Linked DNA regions of Homo sapiens: region 2 is linked to region 1. The links come from fine-mapping of genetic effects on gene expression. A gene starts in region 1. The other region holds a variant in brackets. All regions are shown on one strand. Distances are between the middles of the regions. Region 1 holds the start of TNFRSF18 (TNF receptor superfamily member 18). Region 2 overlaps B3GALT6 (beta-1,3-galactosyltransferase 6).

Region 1 (8,272 bases):
TACCCAGCCCCGAGCCCAGTACCCAGCCTCCAGCCCAGTACCCAGCCCCGAGCCCAGTACCCAGCCTCCAGCCCAGTACCCAGCCCCGAGCCCAGTACCCAGCCTCCAGCCCAGTACCCAGCCCCGAGCCCAGTACCCAGCCTCCAGCCCAGTACCCAGCCCCGAGCCCAGTACCCAGCCTCCAGCCCAGTACCCAGCCCCGAGCCCAGTACCCAGCCTCCAGCCCAGTACCCAGCCCCGAGCCCAGTACCCAGCCTCCAGCCCAGTACCCAGCCCCGAGCCCAGTACCCAGCCTCCAGCCCAGTACCCAGCCCCGAGCCCAGTACCCAGCCTCCAGCCCAGTACCCAGCCCCGAGCCCAGTACCCAGCCTCCAGCCCAGTACCCAGCCCCCAGCCCAGTACCCAGCCCCGAGCCCAGTACCCAGCCCCCAGCCCAGTACCCAGCCTCCAGCCCAGTACCCAGCCCCGAGCCCAGTACCCAGCCTCCAGCCCAGTACCCAGCCCCGAGCCCAGTACCCAGCCCCCAGCCCAGTACCCAGCCTCCAGCCCAGTACCCAGCCTCCAGCCCAGTACCCAGCCCCGAGCCCAGTACCCAGCCCCCAGCCCAGTACCCAGCCCCGAGCCCAGTACCCAGCCCCGAGCCCAGTACCCAGCCCCGAGCCCAGCACCCAGCCTCCAGCCCAGTACCCATCCCCGAGCCCAGTACCCAGCCTCCAGCCCAGTACCCATCCCCGAGCCCAGTACCCAGCCTCCAGCCCAGTACCCATCCCCGAGCCCAGTACCCAGCCTCCAGCCCAGTACCCAGCCCCGAGCCCAGTACCCAGCCTCTAGCCCAGTACCCAGCCTCCAGCCCAGTACCCATCCCCGAGCCCAGTACCCAGCCTCCAGCCCAGTACCCATCCCCAAGCCCAGTACCCAGCCCCGAGCCCAGTACTCCACGACGCCGAAGGGCCGGGTCCTGCCTCCAGGGCTGAGCACCTTCCCCAGTGTCCCTGTGCCACCCTTGGGCTCTCCACACTCCAGGTCCCATGTTGGGGGGGGAGGGGAGCAGACGTCCCCTCTGCCCCGTCCACCTACTGTGAGCTGGGCCCACCGCCCCACTGGGAGCTGAGCTGGGGGCCAGGTGTGCTGTGCCTCCAGGGTGCTGCTGAGACGCCTGCACCAGCCTGCCCGCCACTCCCCGGCAGCTGAGGGAGCCTGTATCAGATCTCACCTGGAGCCTGGAGTGGGAGGCTGGGCGGGCCGAGGGTGGGATGGTGAGGAGAGAGGGCTGGCCTGGAGACGGGGCCGCCCAGCACCAGAAAGTGCTGGATGGCACCCGGGGGCCGGCAGGCTGTGTGGCCAGAAACCAGAGACCCAGGGGCACCAGAGAAGAGCCCCAGAACGGGGGAAGCCGCTGAGCCTGTATCCCTGAGGAGCGCTGGGCCCAGGACTGGAATGGCCCCTCCTCGGGCCCCACCCCCACCCAGCCAGGAGTTCCCAGAATGGGCCCTGGCTGCCCTCCGCTTTGCCCCCTGTGGAGGGGACCACGGCCAGGCATGAGCACGGTGCCCCAAAGCCCAGCCCCGGGTGCCCCGTCCTCCCCCAGCACCCAGCATGCATCCACTCAGGTCACTGGACAAGTGTTTATTGAAGGTCCCCTGCAGCCGGGTCCCGTGCTGGGCACTGCACACCCACGGACACAGCCTCCCGTCCTAAGACCCCACCCCATCAGGGCCAGCAAGGGAGGAAGGGGGCCATGACTGTGTCTCTCTCTCCCTCCTGCAGGGCCCAGCCGCGGCCGCCGAACTGCATGGTCCAGGGCGCTGGTCACTGCCACCTTCCTGCACCCACTTCTGCTGCCAGGGGAGCAGGGCCCGGCCCAGAGCAGAACGCAGAGCCCCTGCGGCCTGGGGAGCTCCTGGGGAGGGGCTGGCTGCGGTCGGTGGCCCCGGAGGACGGCCAGGCTCACACCCACAGGTCTCCCAGCCGCCCCTTCTCCTCTGCCGATCGCTCGCCCCGCTCTTCCTCGGGGAACTGGCAGCTTCTGGCGTCTTCGGTCGACGGCGGCACCTCCAGCAGCAGCTGGGTCTCTGCAGGGGGGCCACGGTCAGCAGGCAGCCATGCTCCCACCTCCCCGCACCAGGCTGTGACAGACCTCGGGGCCACATGCACTGACTCCTCAGCTGCCAGATGTGCAGTCCAAGCTGGGCCGAGGTCAGGAGGAGGACGCAGGCGGCCACGGCCAGGAGGACGACGGTCAGCCACCCAAGCGGCTCTGCCGGCGGGGACCCTGGGACGCACACAGCGTTGTGGGTCTTGTTCCCAGGGAACACAGTGAGAAACCCGAACTGGGTGCAGCTGGAATACATGGACGCGGCCTCCTATCAGCCCCCGGACACGGCCTCCGATCAGCCCCCGGCTGCTGCCCTCCGTGCTGTCTGGGGCAAGGGACAGGAGAGGACCCTTCCTCAGAGTGGGCCTGGACCACCCGGCCACCGGCAGGGCCCACCCAGGACTCACTCTGTCCAAGGTTTGCAGTGGCCTTCGTGGCCCCCGGAGAAGGTCCCCGAGGCACAGTCGATACACTGGAAGCCAAAACTGAATTTCCCTGGTGTGGGGTGTGGGGGGAGGGAGGGAGGGAGGCTGGTGGAGTTGCTGGGATGGATGAGGAGGGCGTCAGGCCAGTGCAGGGGTCCATCTGGGGTCTGGGTGCTGAGTAGAATGCCCCCCCCATCATCCATTCAACAGAGTTCTTCATGGCCCAGGACTGGGGCCCATGTCTGCCCGTCCCAGGTGGGGCGTCTGGGGTGGGGCCCAGTGAGGGCACCTGGGGGAGGTGCGCAGAGTGCAGTGGGCCTGCCAGGGAGGGGAAAGGCCTGCCCATTGGGGGCTGAGGGTGGGCAGAAGCCAGGCAGGACCCAGTAGAACAGAGGGTGGAGAACAGTGAGGGTCCCAGAGAGAGTGAGGCTGGGTCCCAGTTGACCCCAGACCCTGCCCCGTCCAACCTGACACAACCTCCCCAGTTGTACCTTCTCCCAGCTCTCATGTGCCCAGCCTGACCTCTCCTGTCAGGTAAACAAGCCGCTAAGAGGACTTGAGCTGCTCCTTCCAGAACAGGGTGCAGCCCCAGGCCCCAGACAGGACTCCGGGGGGCACAGGGCAGGCTCTTTCAGTATGTGGTGAGGACAGACAGGATGGGTGTCCCGGGCCTGAGAGCCAGACAGCTCCTGGAACCCGCCCCCACCTCCCCGCAGGGTTCTCACAGCCCTCGTGCTGGATGGAGAAGCCCAGGCTGAGAAAGCAGGGACAGGACACCCCCAGAGCTTCATGGCCTGTGGTGCCTGAGCATGGCCTGGCCTGCCCGGCCTCACAGGACTCCGGACCCCACACACCACATGTCCTCGCCGGACACCTGTGCCCACGAGCTCTGCCTCGGGCCCTAGTGGAACCCCTGGCCTGTGTGGACTCCCAGAGGCACCTCCAGGACTTACCCTGGGACTGTACCCCCTGGCCTGGGGGACAAGGGTGGTGCCGGCAGGTCGTGCAGCAAGGGTCTCCGCAGTGGAATTCAGGCTGGACACACATGCAGTCCCACTCGGAACAGCACTCCTCGCCTGGGCAGGAGACAGGCCAGCCCCCCAGCAGCTGGGCTGAGGCCCCCTCCTCCCCAGGCCTCCCCTCGGCCCTCCAGGGGAGTGAGGTTGTCCGTTCTCCACCCACAGTTGGCTCCAGGGAGCAGAGGGCTCCTGGCTGGGAGTCTGGACCCTGGGTTTATCCAGCTGTCTCTTTCTCCTGGGGCCATGTGGCCTGGCTACTCCCCCTTTGCGCCCCACAGCTGCCCCTGCCCAGGTGCTAACTCCATATGCAACCAGGAGCTGCCCCTGCAGGACCCAGGGGTGGCCCCCAACAGTGCACAGTCCCCTGGAGGCCCGTCGACACCTCAGAGGCCGCCTGCCTGGTGTCTGGGCGCTGCTGTCCCCACCACCAGCCACACTGGGCCTCCGGACAGAGCCTCCCTTCCCAACCCACAGGCCCTGGAGGAAGAAGCTCTGGGGTGACTTCCCTGCCAGCTTCCTCTCCAGACCAGCCGTGTCAGCTGAACCCTCATCCCCAGGTGCAGGTCAGAGGCAGGCAGCAGGCCAGACGGTGGTGCAGGGGGGCCCTCAACTGGGCAGGAGGGGGCTGGGCGATGGCCAAGGGCTCACGACCCGCCCAGCAGGACCTGGAACAGCCGTCCTCCACCTCCAGACCCCAGACCCCTCTTGAGGGCGCTCCCACCTGGCTCACCCCTGCTCCCGGCCGGGGCCACTGGCTGGAGCTGGCACACCTCCGCCTCCCTCTGGGATCCTGCCTCCCTCCGGAAGGCTCCCGCTGCTGGCGGCTCTGTGCCCACCCTCCTTAGACCTCAGCAACGCCGGTCTGAGCACGGGAAGGGGGGCGCCCACCCATCCCGGCTTCCGCGGGACGCCTTGGCCGGTCCGCGTTAAGTAAACGCGGTTTACTTACCCGGGTAATCGCGGCAGCAGCGCGTCGTGTGAACCCGGCAGCAGCGCGCGTCCGTTCCCGTCCCAAGCAGGAGGCGCCCAGGGCCGCACCCGGGACCCCCGGTGGGGCGCTGACCCAGGCTGAGCGCGCACAGCAGCGCCAGGCCGCACAGGGCCCGAAACGCGCCCATCGCCCCGTGCTGTGCCATGCTCGGGTTTCAAGAGCCCACAGCCAGTTGGACACGCCCCGTCCCCGTCCTCACCCGCCCTGCCCGGAGGTGGCTGGGACCGTTCATGACCTGAGAATCCCGACCCAGGTGAAGTGCGTGTGAGGAGGGGGTGTAGACACTGCGGACACAGCCCGGTCCCCCGCAGGTCGCCGGCAGGGGCGGGGAAACCAGGCTGGCGGGGATCAGAAAGGTTTTCTATGCAAAGTCTGCGGCCACATTGGTGTCCCCAGTGCAGGGGGCGGCGTTTATAGCACCTTGTCCCATGGGGGCCCCTTGGAGGGCGGGGGTCAGCCAATCACTCCTCCATCCCACTGCCTCCGGGTGGTATCTGCGAGTCCCCGAGAGGTCTCCACAAATTCTGGCCACCCCCAGAGAGCCTCAACCATGGAGCCCCGTGCTGGGGAACCCCACAGAATGGGGACAGGGACCCCTCGGCTCAGCACACCCCACCTGGCTGGCTTCAGGTGTGAAACTCACCATGGGCTGCAGGCCTGTGGGCTCCCCTCCCCCTTGCTTGCAGCTCTCCAGGACCCCCCTCAGGCCAACCTGGGAAGTTCCCCGGGGCTTGGGAGGGGCACCAGGAGGAGCTGGTGGGGAGACGAGAGGGTGCTGGCGCCTCCTCGGGACAGTGTCAGCCGCCCCCGCGGGCACCCAGGGCCCGGTCTCTCAGAGCCACCTTCATCCGTCACACCAGACAGATCCAGGTCCCGGAGGGAGTTGAGGAGGAGCCCCTCGCAGAGCTCTTGGGAGACTGTCCTATGTCTTTCTGAGCCTCAGTTTCCCCTGTGGGCACCGAGGGGTTCTGGGACCCTGCCTCCACCAGGAAGCCTCCCTGGATTGCCCAGCCCTGCTTCTGCGCCGTCCAGCACAGGTGGAGACCCCCATGAATGCTGGGGGTGGGGGCTCTCGGGAACGTGAGCGTGGATGTGGTTCAACACCCTTTTGAGACCTGCAGCCACCGCCTCACCCCGTAAGGCGGTTCCTCCTTTTCCAAGGTAAATGACAGGAATTAGCTGTTTGTGACACCCCGGAGTTCTCAAATCCAAGATGTAGGAGCCTGCCTTGGAGAGGCAGCCCTCAGACACTGCAGAGAAGGAAGGGGTCTCTGCAGCTCCAGGCCGCCCCGACGCTCGGAAGGAAAGGGGTGGGGCCAGCTGGGCCTGGGGGCCTTTGAGAGGCCTGGAGATCTTCAGCCCCGAGGCTGGGAGGGGGTCTGGGCCCCTGGATAGAAAGAGGCGCCATCAGTGGCTCACGCCCGTAATCCCAGCATTTTGGGAGGCCGAGGTGGGCCTCGGATCACCTGAGGTCAGGGGTTCGAGACCAGCCTGACCCACATGGAGAAAGCCCGTCTCTACTAAAAATACAAAAAAAATTAGCCAGGCGTGGTGGCGCACGCCTGTAATCCCAGCTACTCGGGAGGCTGAGGCAGGAGAATTGCTTGAACCTGGGAGGCAGAGGTTGCGGCGAACCAAGATGGCACCATTGCACTCCAGCCTGGGTGACAGAGCGAGACTCCATCACAAAAAATAAAGAATGCTCATCAGACCACACGGTGTGAGTCATCCATCTAGAGGCAGGGACAGAGTTAGAGGAGCGAGCAGTTTATGGGGCCAAGTGGGAGGCGGCCAGCGGGCAGAGGAGCCCCTCCCCCCCGCCCCGTGGCGCAGCTGACACTTTGAACAGCCGGAGAGCAGCTTGCCACACAGGGTGGTCCCCGGAGGGGCTGCAGGGGTGTGACGTCCACCCTCCCATCCCTCTCGCCGCAGAAGGCCCCTCCCCGGCTCCCCGTGACTCCTATCCTTGGGCTGCGAGGCTGGAGGTGACTTGTTCATCTTATTGAGCAGCTCACCGGTGACACAAATGACGGGGCATTCACACAGCAGAGCAGCCCACGGGCCGGGCGAGGGACAGCCCTTGCGTACGTCCAGAAGGGCAGCTGTGAGGCCCCACGGGGAGGGTGCAGATGGGCACTGAGCCAGAGTTCAGGCAGGGCCTTCGGCACAGATGGCACAGGAGTTGCCAGCAGAGATGGCGTCAGGCGAGGGGGCGGGGAGGGTGAGCATGGAGACCAAGAGGAGGTGGCCCCGTGTCCATCTGGGGGTGCGGCAAGGGGTCCTGCTGGGGAATAAGTCCCACGGGGCCTGGGGGGTGCTGTGCCCAGAGGGGAGGAGACAGGAAGCGATGGGTATGGGCGCCAGGTTTGGGGAGGAGGCCCCTTTCCCATAGCCGTCGACCTGCGGGCCCCACAGGATCTGGCCGCTCCAGTCCCGGCCACCTGACCCCTTCCCCCACCCACCCGCCATCCTGCCTGGAGGTCTGGCCTCGCCTGCCCCACGGGGCGGGGGGCGGGGGGCTCTCAGAGGCGCGGCCCCAACCCTGTGCAGGGCCTGCAGGCTGAACCGTGTGCAGGAACCCGGGGAACTCGGTGAAGGTGCTGGATGGGGGACAGGACGGCCTCTGACTTCCCTATGCTGCGGGGGGGGAGGCTTGTGGTTAGCAGAGAGTGGGTGGAAGACAGAGGTTTGAGGAGAGAGAGACCCAGGGGAGAAAACCAGCTGCAGAGGCAGGAGGGGTCCAGGGCAGCCCGAGGCCAGAGATGGGCGTCTTCCTTACAGCCACCTGTGGTCCCGGCACCTTGGGCTGTTGTGAGTGGCGCGTGGCGCTCCCACTGTGCACCCCCGGGGCCGGTTCCCCACTTCCACGACACCGGCAGGGGGGAGCCATCCGCCAGGCACAGGAGGCCTGGACAGCCGTGGGCAGCGTGCGCTGTTGGAGGACGCAGGGAGAGGGAAGGCTGGCCCAGGGACGCTGTGTGGGGCAGCGGGTGCAGCTGCGGGGCTGGGCCACACCAGCCACGGTAGCCGGAGTGTCCAGGCTGTGCCAGGCCCTCAGCAAAACCTTCCATGAGGCTTCATGTGTTTCTTCTTAAGTAATTTTTTTAAATTTCTTTTTTTTTTTCCAGTCACGTCTCACTGCAGCCTCCATCTCTTGGGCTCAAGTGATCCTCCCACCTCGGCCTCCCAAGTAGCCGGGACCACAGGCATGCACCACCACACCCGGCTGATTTTTTCTATTTTTCATAGAAAAGGGTCTTGCCATGTTACCCAGGCGGGTCTCAAACTCCTGAGCTCAGACGATCGTCTGGCCTCAGCCTCCCAAAGTGCTAGGATTCTAGGCGTGAGCCACCGTGACCGGCCTCGGCTGTGTGTTTCTTGCTCATGAGTGCAGTGAGGGCCAGGCGTGGTGGCTCACACCTGGAATCGCAGTACTCCAGGGCACCGAGGCAGGTGGATCACCTGAGGTCAGGAGTTCAAGACCAGCTTAGCCAACATGGTGAAACCCTGTCTCTAATAAAATACAAAAATTAGCCGGGTGTGGTGCTGGGCGCCTGTAGTCCCAGCTACTTGGGAGGCTGAGGCAGGAGAATGGCGTGAACCCGGGAGGCAGAGGTTGGTGAGCTGAGATCACACCACTGCACTCCAGCCTGGGTGACACAGCAAGACTCCGGCAAAAAAAAAAAAAGAAAGAAAAAACAAGTGCAGTGAGACGTCTTAGCCCTCGGGAGTGTTTCTCTTC
Region 2 (8,312 bases), 31 kb after region 1:
GTGGGCACGGCCGGCCTGGGCGCCGAGGAGCGGCGCGCCCTGGAGCGGGAGCAGGCGCGGCACGGGGACCTGCTGCTGCTGCCCGCGCTGCGCGACGCCTACGAAAACCTCACGGCCAAGGTGCTGGCCATGCTGGCCTGGCTGGACGAGCACGTGGCCTTCGAGTTCGTGCTCAAGGCGGACGACGACTCCTTCGCGCGGCTGGACGCGCTGCTGGCCGAGCTGCGCGCCCGCGAGCCCGCGCGCCGCCGCCGCCTCTACTGGGGCTTCTTCTCGGGCCGCGGCCGCGTCAAGCCGGGGGGGCGCTGGCGCGAGGCCGCCTGGCAACTCTGCGACTACTACCTGCCCTACGCGCTGGGCGGCGGCTACGTGCTCTCGGCCGACCTGGTGCACTACCTGCGCCTCAGCCGCGACTACCTGCGCGCCTGGCACAGCGAGGACGTGTCTCTGGGCGCCTGGCTGGCGCCGGTGGACGTCCAGCGGGAGCACGACCCGCGCTTCGACACCGAATACCGGTCCCGCGGCTGCAGCAACCAGTACCTGGTGACGCACAAGCAGAGCCTGGAGGACATGCTGGAGAAGCACGCGACGCTGGCGCGCGAGGGCCGCCTGTGCAAGCGCGAGGTGCAGCTGCGCCTGTCCTACGTGTACGACTGGTCCGCGCCGCCCTCGCAGTGCTGCCAGAGAAGGGAGGGCATCCCCTGAGCCGCCGCGGCCCGGCCCTCCGGGACACCTGCTTCACCCGGCGGCGCCTTGGGGCAGGTGCCGAGCGGGCGCACTACGCCCGGGCCCCAAGGCCCCCGTCCCGCAGCCACGCTTGTGGTCGCTGCGTCCCGGTCTGCGTTTGGGAGACCCCTGGGGGTTGCCGGGGCAGCGCGCCGTGTCCAGGTGGAGGTGCCCGTTCCTGGACCTCAGCGAGCCTGAGCCGGGCCCGGCCGCACGCTGACCCCCGTGCTGTCCCCGACCGGCTCACGGGGCTGGGCTCCGATCTTCCGTGTCTCTTATCAGTGGCGTTTCTCACGTCTGCGTCTCAGATCTAACGTGGTTTCACATCAATCCGCTTTCATGGGATTTTGGTCTCTGTCCAGTGACTTCGTGGTAAATGTAACTCAGTGTTTGCTTGCGACTTATTTATAAATATTGTAAGTTTGTGTCGATGAGTGTAAGTTGGCAGTGCGCACGTCTCGGTTTTTTTACATGATTTAAGGAAAGACTTTTATGTCAGAACTTGGTGCCTGTACCGTCAACCCCGCTGCTGCCCGTGTTTAAACGCAGGAGAACTTTAAAACTGGCCATCTATCTTTTCAGTGTACAAGTCACTGAACCCATTGTTTCTTTCTGAAGAGACTTTCCTTTCAAGGCTTCCCATGGGTCCGCGCCACACAGGGCCGGTGCTGCTTTATTTCAGACTCTGCCCCAGGTTCCAGGAATCCGAACCCCGGAGTGCTGACGCGGTTCCCCAACTTCCGCCTTAAGAAAACAGGACCAGCCGGCACCAGGCCCGTCTCTCACGTACTTTAACACATCCTTGAAAGCCCCTCGTTTAATGAGAAAAGCGAACACTGCGGTCCTTGCCAAAGTAAAATGAAGCTGCCCCAGGACAAGGGGTTACCATGAGCTCCCTGGAGTCCGACGCGGGTTTTCTCTCTGGGGGACCTGGGTGGTCCCCGCTGTGGTCTTTGTTGTCCCACTTTGGGACCGGGTCCAGTCTGGGGTCTAGTCTCGAGCATCAGGGTCAGGCTCGGGGCAGGGCTGGGTTAGGCTCCGGGTCAGTCTTGCCATGGGTTTGGGAGCAGGTTTGGGTTACTTGCGTTTGAAGGCAGCAGTGGTCTCAGGAGGAAGAAACGGGGGCGGGAGAGAGTGGTGATCTGTGGTCAGTGGGTCAGTGACCTGCACGGTGATTCTCCCACCTCCAAAAGGTAGGGGTGGGACTGGAGGCGTCCCTAGGTCAGGCCGTTGAGTTCGAGCTCCGATGGGCCACCTTGAATCCAGGACTGACCGCCCGTGTGTGCACAGTTTGTTCTTGGACGAGGACTCGTGAGGATCGAGGGCTGGGGACCCCGGTGTGAGCAGGATGGGGCCCTGCCCTCCCGTGGGAGTTGTGGACTCGAGCCCAGGGGCTGCCCGTCACAGCGGTGTCCCAGGTCCCTGCCATCCGATTTTACCTGGGATGTCTTCTCTGGAGTTTGGAATTGCTTGAGGAACCCTGCGTGTGCTTGGAGAGGCCAGAGGGCTTGCTGAGAACCCCATGGACAGTGGAGAGCGGGATTCGAACCAAGGGCTGGACTCCCACACCTCTGGCCTGCGTCGCCCAGTTCTTTGTGGCTCTGAAGAATTGGCCGCTGTGGAAAAGAGCAAATGTCCGAGACCCCCAACAGGAAGAGTCTAAAAATCCAGTTTGCAACCACTTCTGACCTACAAAAAAATGGAAATTTAGTGTTTTTCAGCCTAAGACATTAAATTTCATATCAGAACAAAGCCTGCCCCAGGCTGACCCTCCCCAGCCGTACCGTGGTGAACGGGTTCAGAGGATACGTGGGCTGAAGGCTGGGCCTCGGGAGGGCTGGGGGCTTCCAGAGCCGGGGCAGCTGCAGCTCTCTCTGGTCTCACCTGGAACTTGCCCTGTAGATCCTCCCTGCCCTGCGGCTCCAATCGACCGTGCACGGGCCGTGGCATCCGTCCCCCAGGCGTCCTTCCCTGGTCTTAGCTTGTACAGCTCCCCACCCACCCAGGTACTCGGTTCCCGGAGACCAGGGCCAAACCAGGAGGCCCTCGGGAGATGGGGGGTCACCGAATTCATTTCCATGTGGGAACTTGGGATACAAAACAGCCAACTCTTCCTCAGCCACACGGATGTTTCTCCTCTAGTGGCCCCGAGAACCTACCATGGAGGGGACAGTGTCAGGGCTGGACGGGCACGGCGCAGCCACACGCACACAGCCCCCAGGAGGCACAGGGCCGGCAGGGAATGCAGGTCAAGCCAAGAGGATGGGCTCTGGTCCCTTCAGGATCCCCCAGGAGGAGAGCACCCCCTTCTGCCCTCTTCCTGGGGACTATGGTCCTGCCTCTCTGCCCCCTGAGGCTGGCATGCAGGCACCTGACGTTGGCTCCAGCTCTCTGGGCCAGCCCTGGGTACCCGCCGGGCCTGTGGCCTGGTTGGTCACCCCCAAGATGCAAAGTGCTACCTGCATCCGGAGGCACCCCCGCCCCTGAGGCCTCCAGGTTCCCACCTGCCCACCTGTGTCTGGCTGGGATCCTGGCTGTCAAGGCTCCTGTTACGGGACTGAACTGTGCCCCCTAAAAGATATTCCAAGCCCTAACCCAGCAGCTACAAACTGACCTTGTCTGGAAGTCGGGTCTCTGCAGGTGGAATTGCGTTAAGGCAAGGTCCTGAGGTGGCCTTACTCCCACGGAACTGGTGTCCTTACCAGAA[A/G]AGACCTGGGAAAAAGCCACTGTGTGGCTAGAGACTGACACCCAGGCGATGCCTCTGCAGGCCAAGGATTGAGGACCCTCCACCCCCACCCCACCAGGCAAGGAAGGGCTCTACCCAGAGTCAGGAGCGTGGCCTCCAGGGCTGCGAGGGAAGACGCCCCGTCCAGCAGCCCCAGGATGCCAGCCCAGTTCCCTGTGCCCGGCGCTCTTCGGTGCAGACGCAGGCAGGGGCTCCTGCAACCTTGTGGCATCACAGACGCCCAGCACTGACTGGGCCCAGATCTCCTCCCCGCAGGGCTCAGCACACACCCTGTTCCCGGCAGGCCTCCATCAGTCCAGCCTGCAGCAGGGCTGCCCCCGCGGCCTGGGTCACCCCAGACTCTTCCACCCTCTCCCTGGCTGACTGTCCCAGCTCAGAGTCCTCAGGTCTAAGGGGGTCACGGCCCTCCTGTGGCCCCACCGGCCCCAGGCTCCCCAGCTGTGGCACTGTGAGACCAGCTGACGTTGCAGGAATGGAAGCCCCAGCGGCCCAGACGGCTTGGGGAGTCCTCGGGAGCAGGTGGCCAGAGACAGGTGCGTGCCAGGCCCTCCGCACCCAGAGCGGGGCCGGGAGGAGAGAGGAGGCCCCTTGTTCGCGCAAGGCCCTGCTTCCTGGGCCCACAGCAGCCTGTCAGAAGTTTCCAGCTCCTTGGACTGGCTGTGTGGGGCCTGCTCCCTGGTTTCAGGGGCCTGGGAAGGGCTTGGCGCTTTTTCCTGGTTTCCTACTCTGAGGTGAGCTGGCGTCTCCCTCTCCCACTGTGGGCTGAGGGGAAAGACCTCTGTGTCCATCCCACAGGCCTGGCCAATCTCTGGGGTCCTCAAAGAGGAGGCTTTTGAGGGGGCACAGCCCAAACCCCTGGGCCTCCCCTTGAGGTCTCCTCCCAGCCCCCACCCAGAGGACCTTCCCACAGCCTTGGGAGCTGAAACCCAGGCCACCCCATCAAGTTGGCCTCTGTGGGTGTACACACTCCTTTCCCTCAGGGCCAGGGTGGGTCCCCACCCCCAGCACTCACAGCCCCTCCTTCTCTGGCCTCCCTGCCCTCCGCACCCTCCCTGCTAGATGCTGGTGCCGCTAGCCCTGCCCTGATGGCCACACTGCACCACGCTGGCCAGGTCAGAACCACCCGAGGAGAAGAACCAAGATCTGGCCCCACCCTGTCCTCCTCGGAAGGTCTCTCTGGGGCCCACCCCCTCCTCCCTCCCCAAGGATCTGAGCCTCCCTCACCGAGGTTCCCAGTGGAGGTAGACAGTGGATGAGTGATCCCAGGAGAGCTGGCTGCAGCCAAGGGGCTGAAGGGAGGTGGAGGCGGGAGGGGCAGGAAGGAGGATCTGGAAGGCCCCAGGCGCTCCCCACCCATCCAGCCTCGGCCTCTGTCCTGGTCGCGTTGCCCAGCGAGGCCTCTCCTTGGGCTGGGGCTCGGGTACTCTGCCCTGGTCGGGGCCACAGATGCCGCAAAGTCCCCTCAACTCAGCTAGCCAGGGTGCAAGACCGCGCCCACAGCTGAGAAGCCAGGGGTTACGAGTGTGGCCCTGCCAGGACCTCCTCAGCTGCATCCTCCAGAGTAAACACAGGTGGCCGCAGATCTTCCAGGGCCGGCCGGGCAGGCAGGACAGGAGCCCAGGAGGGCCGCAGTCCAGCTCCCCTCCCCGCTGACCCAGGGCCGGACCCAGCCCGGTGACTGGAGCAGAAGGAAACCCAAGCCCCAGGCCCTCCCTCCGGTGGCATCCGAAGGTCTCAGCGGCCCCAGCCTCCCCCAGGGGCCCCGCACCCGCCACCGCCCACCTCAGACCGGAGAGAGAGTGAGGGATGGGCAGAGCCAGGCCCAAGTCCCCGCCGGGGCGACGGTCACGGTGCCTCACCCTCAACCGCCTCACCCAGACCTTCCGACCCAGGAACAGCTGAACTCAGCCTAAAAAGCACCCGTCCCGAGGGCCTGAGTCCGGCCGTGGTGCCTCCTGCTGCAGAGATGTGTTTTGCACACTCCTGTGTGGCAGGGAGAGGCCCGGGCGTGCGGGCTGGGGGCCCAAGGGGTCTGGAGACGCTTCCCTGCGGAGACGGGGTTTGCCCAGCCCCCACCTGTCACGCTTCTCGTCACCCCCAAGTGAGGGCCGTGGGCGCGGGCGGGGTGGGCAGGAGGCCCTGCTGGGCTGGGTCACACGCATGACACCTGGCTGTCGCAACACAGATATCATCACGCCCGGGCACCCGTGAGTCACTGGCCCAGAGCAGGGGCTGCCCCCAGCCTCCCAAACAAAGACCCTTTGTCCCCAGGCCTCTGGTGCCAGGCCCACCTGTACAGCAGTCAGATGCGCAGGCGGACAGACACGCCGGTGGCTCGGCAGGCACAGGCAGGGCCAGGGCGTGTTCCCGCAACCAGACACGCTGCCATTCCTGGGTCAGGGTCAGGCTGAGGGAGACCCCTGGGGGACAGGCCCTGAGGTCACCATAGCTCAGAGTGACCTGAACTGGGAGTCCAAGCACAGACTGGCCAAGCCCAGCCCGTGAGCGACGGCCCCAGGACGCGGCGCCGAGCTCTGCCCCCAGCTCCAGCTCCCAGCGGCGTCGGAGCACAGCAGATCCCAGGGCAGCGCTCTGCAGGCAGGAAAGAGCTTCCCCTTGGGACAGCGCGCTGAGCAGCCCCCAGCTGAGGGTGGGAGCCCCGTCCCTGGACCCCTTCACGCAGTTCAGGGAGCCCCACATGCCGAAGCAGCCGTCACAGCTCCATGGGCCCCTCTGCTGTCCCTGGCAGGACCGAAGCTATGTGGCCTCCCGGACGCCAGGGACCCCGGCCACGCCCGCTCCAGGCACTGAGTGGCCAGCCAAGCGCTCGGGCCCGGGGTCCTGGACGGCTGTTCTGGGTTTGTTCTCAAGGGGGCCGTGCTGCTGGCTCTGTAGAGAGTCCCAGTCCCAGGGCAGAGACCCACACAGATGTGCAGACACGTGGGCACACACGCACCAGTCGCAGGGACACACAACTGTCAACCCGGGGTCAACACGGGGCACCTGGGTACATAGATTTTTACAAAGCAGGGCAGGCAGGTCTGTTTGGACCCTACACAGCCCCTACATGCCCCCAGGCCATTCTTGTTCCAAGGCCCAGATGACAGTGGTCACCAGGTGTGGTGTGGTCTGGGGTCTGGGACAGGCCCCAGGAACGCCCTGGGCTTACTCCAGAGAGGCTGGCAGGCAGTCCGAGGGGCCTTTGGAGCAGACACCCTCCCAGCTGCAGGGCGGCAGGGGCGGCAGGGGTGACAGAGGCGGGGAGAAGGATGCGAAGACAAGATGCCAAAGCTGGGCCTCCAGCGCCTGCCTGTCCTGGCTGCAGCCCCAGGGTCCACACCCAGGCGCCCCCAGGGGCCAGGCCAGGGCAGCCGCATCTCCTACGTACCCCAACAGTGGGGCCCTTGAGGCACCGGGGACGGATGGGCAATGGTGTCCACACCTGACAGGCGGGGCCGGAGCGGGGCCCAGCCTCCTCCTCACAGCCAGGAGCCCCCAGCCCTGCCTCCCCTGGCTCCTGCTGCCCCCTCAGGGTGGCTGCCGCACCTGGCCCCAAGAGGACTTCCTGGCTGCCCTGAGCTCCCGTCCGCATTTCTGTCCATTCAAGACCAGGACAGCACCAGGGCTGGGAATACTGGCTCCGACCCAGCCGAGGCAGCCCCGGGGCAGGGTGGGTCAGGCAGGTCCAGCGCTGGGACTCTAGGGAAGGGCTGGTCCTGTGAGCAGACGAGCTGGAGGGTTGGTGGGGGGAGTGTCCCCGCACCGGGCATGGCCCCTCCCAGGATGGCAGGGAGCCCACGGCAGGAGTGTCCGATGCCCCCAGCCCCGGCCAGGCAGCAGGGTCGGCCTGCGGTTCTGGGAAGTCAGCCCTGGTGGAGGTCACGGAGAAGCCGGCAGCTCCCTGCCGCTCAGGGCATGGGGTCAAGGGTCAGGGGTCAGGGGTCGGGTTGAGGCCGTCCGGCACGTAGCCGGCTGCTCTGGCTTTGCTCCTGCCAGGGTCCACGAAGCTGCCAGACGCTTGGGACACTCAATACCCCAGCTCCCAAACCGGGGGGCACAGGCCTGAAGAGATCCGTTTCCCTGGGCTCCCCAGGTCCCCCAGCCAGCCCAGACCCCAAGCAACAGCAGCTCTGGCTGGCCTGCACCTGCCCCGGGGACCCCACGCTCCGGCTGGGTGAGTGACAGGCATCTCCCACCCTCGTCAAGAGTCCAGGGTCCCTTCTATGGCAAACATTGCAGTGTGGGTCCAGCCCAGGAGGTGAGGCTGAGAGAGAATGAAGGGGTGCAGCTGGGCTGGGCCAGAGGATGGAGCCTTGGCTGGGTGGGCTGGGAGCCTGGACCCTCCTGTGAGGCCGCCCACCCCACCCCGACCTGTCCATTCCTTTGCTCCTGGGTGCCCAGAGGGGGCTAGAGATGGCACATTCCAGGGGAATTGCGGCTAAGTGGCTGATCACCTCCCACTGGGGCAGAAACCAGGAGGCAGAGGCCAGGGAGGTGGTGCCAGCACCAGGACATCCCCACGCCCCCCATTCACCCTGGCCCCAGCCCCCCCCATTCACCCTGGCCCCCATGCCAGCCCCCAGCCACCCCCGACCAGCCCCCATCCCCCACCTCATTCACCCCGGCCGTGGTCCCTGCCCCAGCCCCCGCCGCCCCCATTCACCCGGGCCCTGGCCCCCAACTCATTCAGCCCCGGCCCCCCGCCCCACCACTCCACGTCTCTTTGTCTCTCATCACCATCTTGCTCTACGCGGCCCTGGGTCCCATTTCTGGCATGTCCATCTGTCATCACAGCTCCTACCTCCGGGACTGGGTAGGGTGGGGGACTGGCTGCTGCTGA

What was found.
Region 2: its variant is fine-mapped to the expression of TNFRSF18 in whole blood (TOPMed, PIP above 0.99).

The regions. Positions count from the first base shown.
Region 1 is chr1:1,201,897-1,210,168 of GRCh38, forward strand. It overlaps TNFRSF18 (TNF receptor superfamily member 18), which reads right to left and starts at 4,696. Exons shown (of 5, transcript NM_004195.3): 1 at 4,489-4,696; 2 at 3,474-3,596; 3 at 2,503-2,590; 4 at 2,138-2,340; 5 at 1,612-2,072. The coding sequence starts at 4,675. The coding sequence ends at 1,948. RefSeq lists silencers at 3,279-3,479, 6,352-6,441, 7,022-7,131 and an enhancer at 6,276-7,155.
Region 2 is chr1:1,232,564-1,240,875 of GRCh38, forward strand. It overlaps B3GALT6 (beta-1,3-galactosyltransferase 6), which reads left to right. Exons shown (of 1, transcript NM_080605.4): 1 at 1-2,478. The coding sequence ends at 705. Among named protein-coding and RNA genes, the nearest start is that of B3GALT6, 4.5 kb to the left of the region's middle. RefSeq lists enhancers at 1-73, 74-755, 1,540-2,041. The variant A/G (reference allele first, on the strand shown) is at 3,434.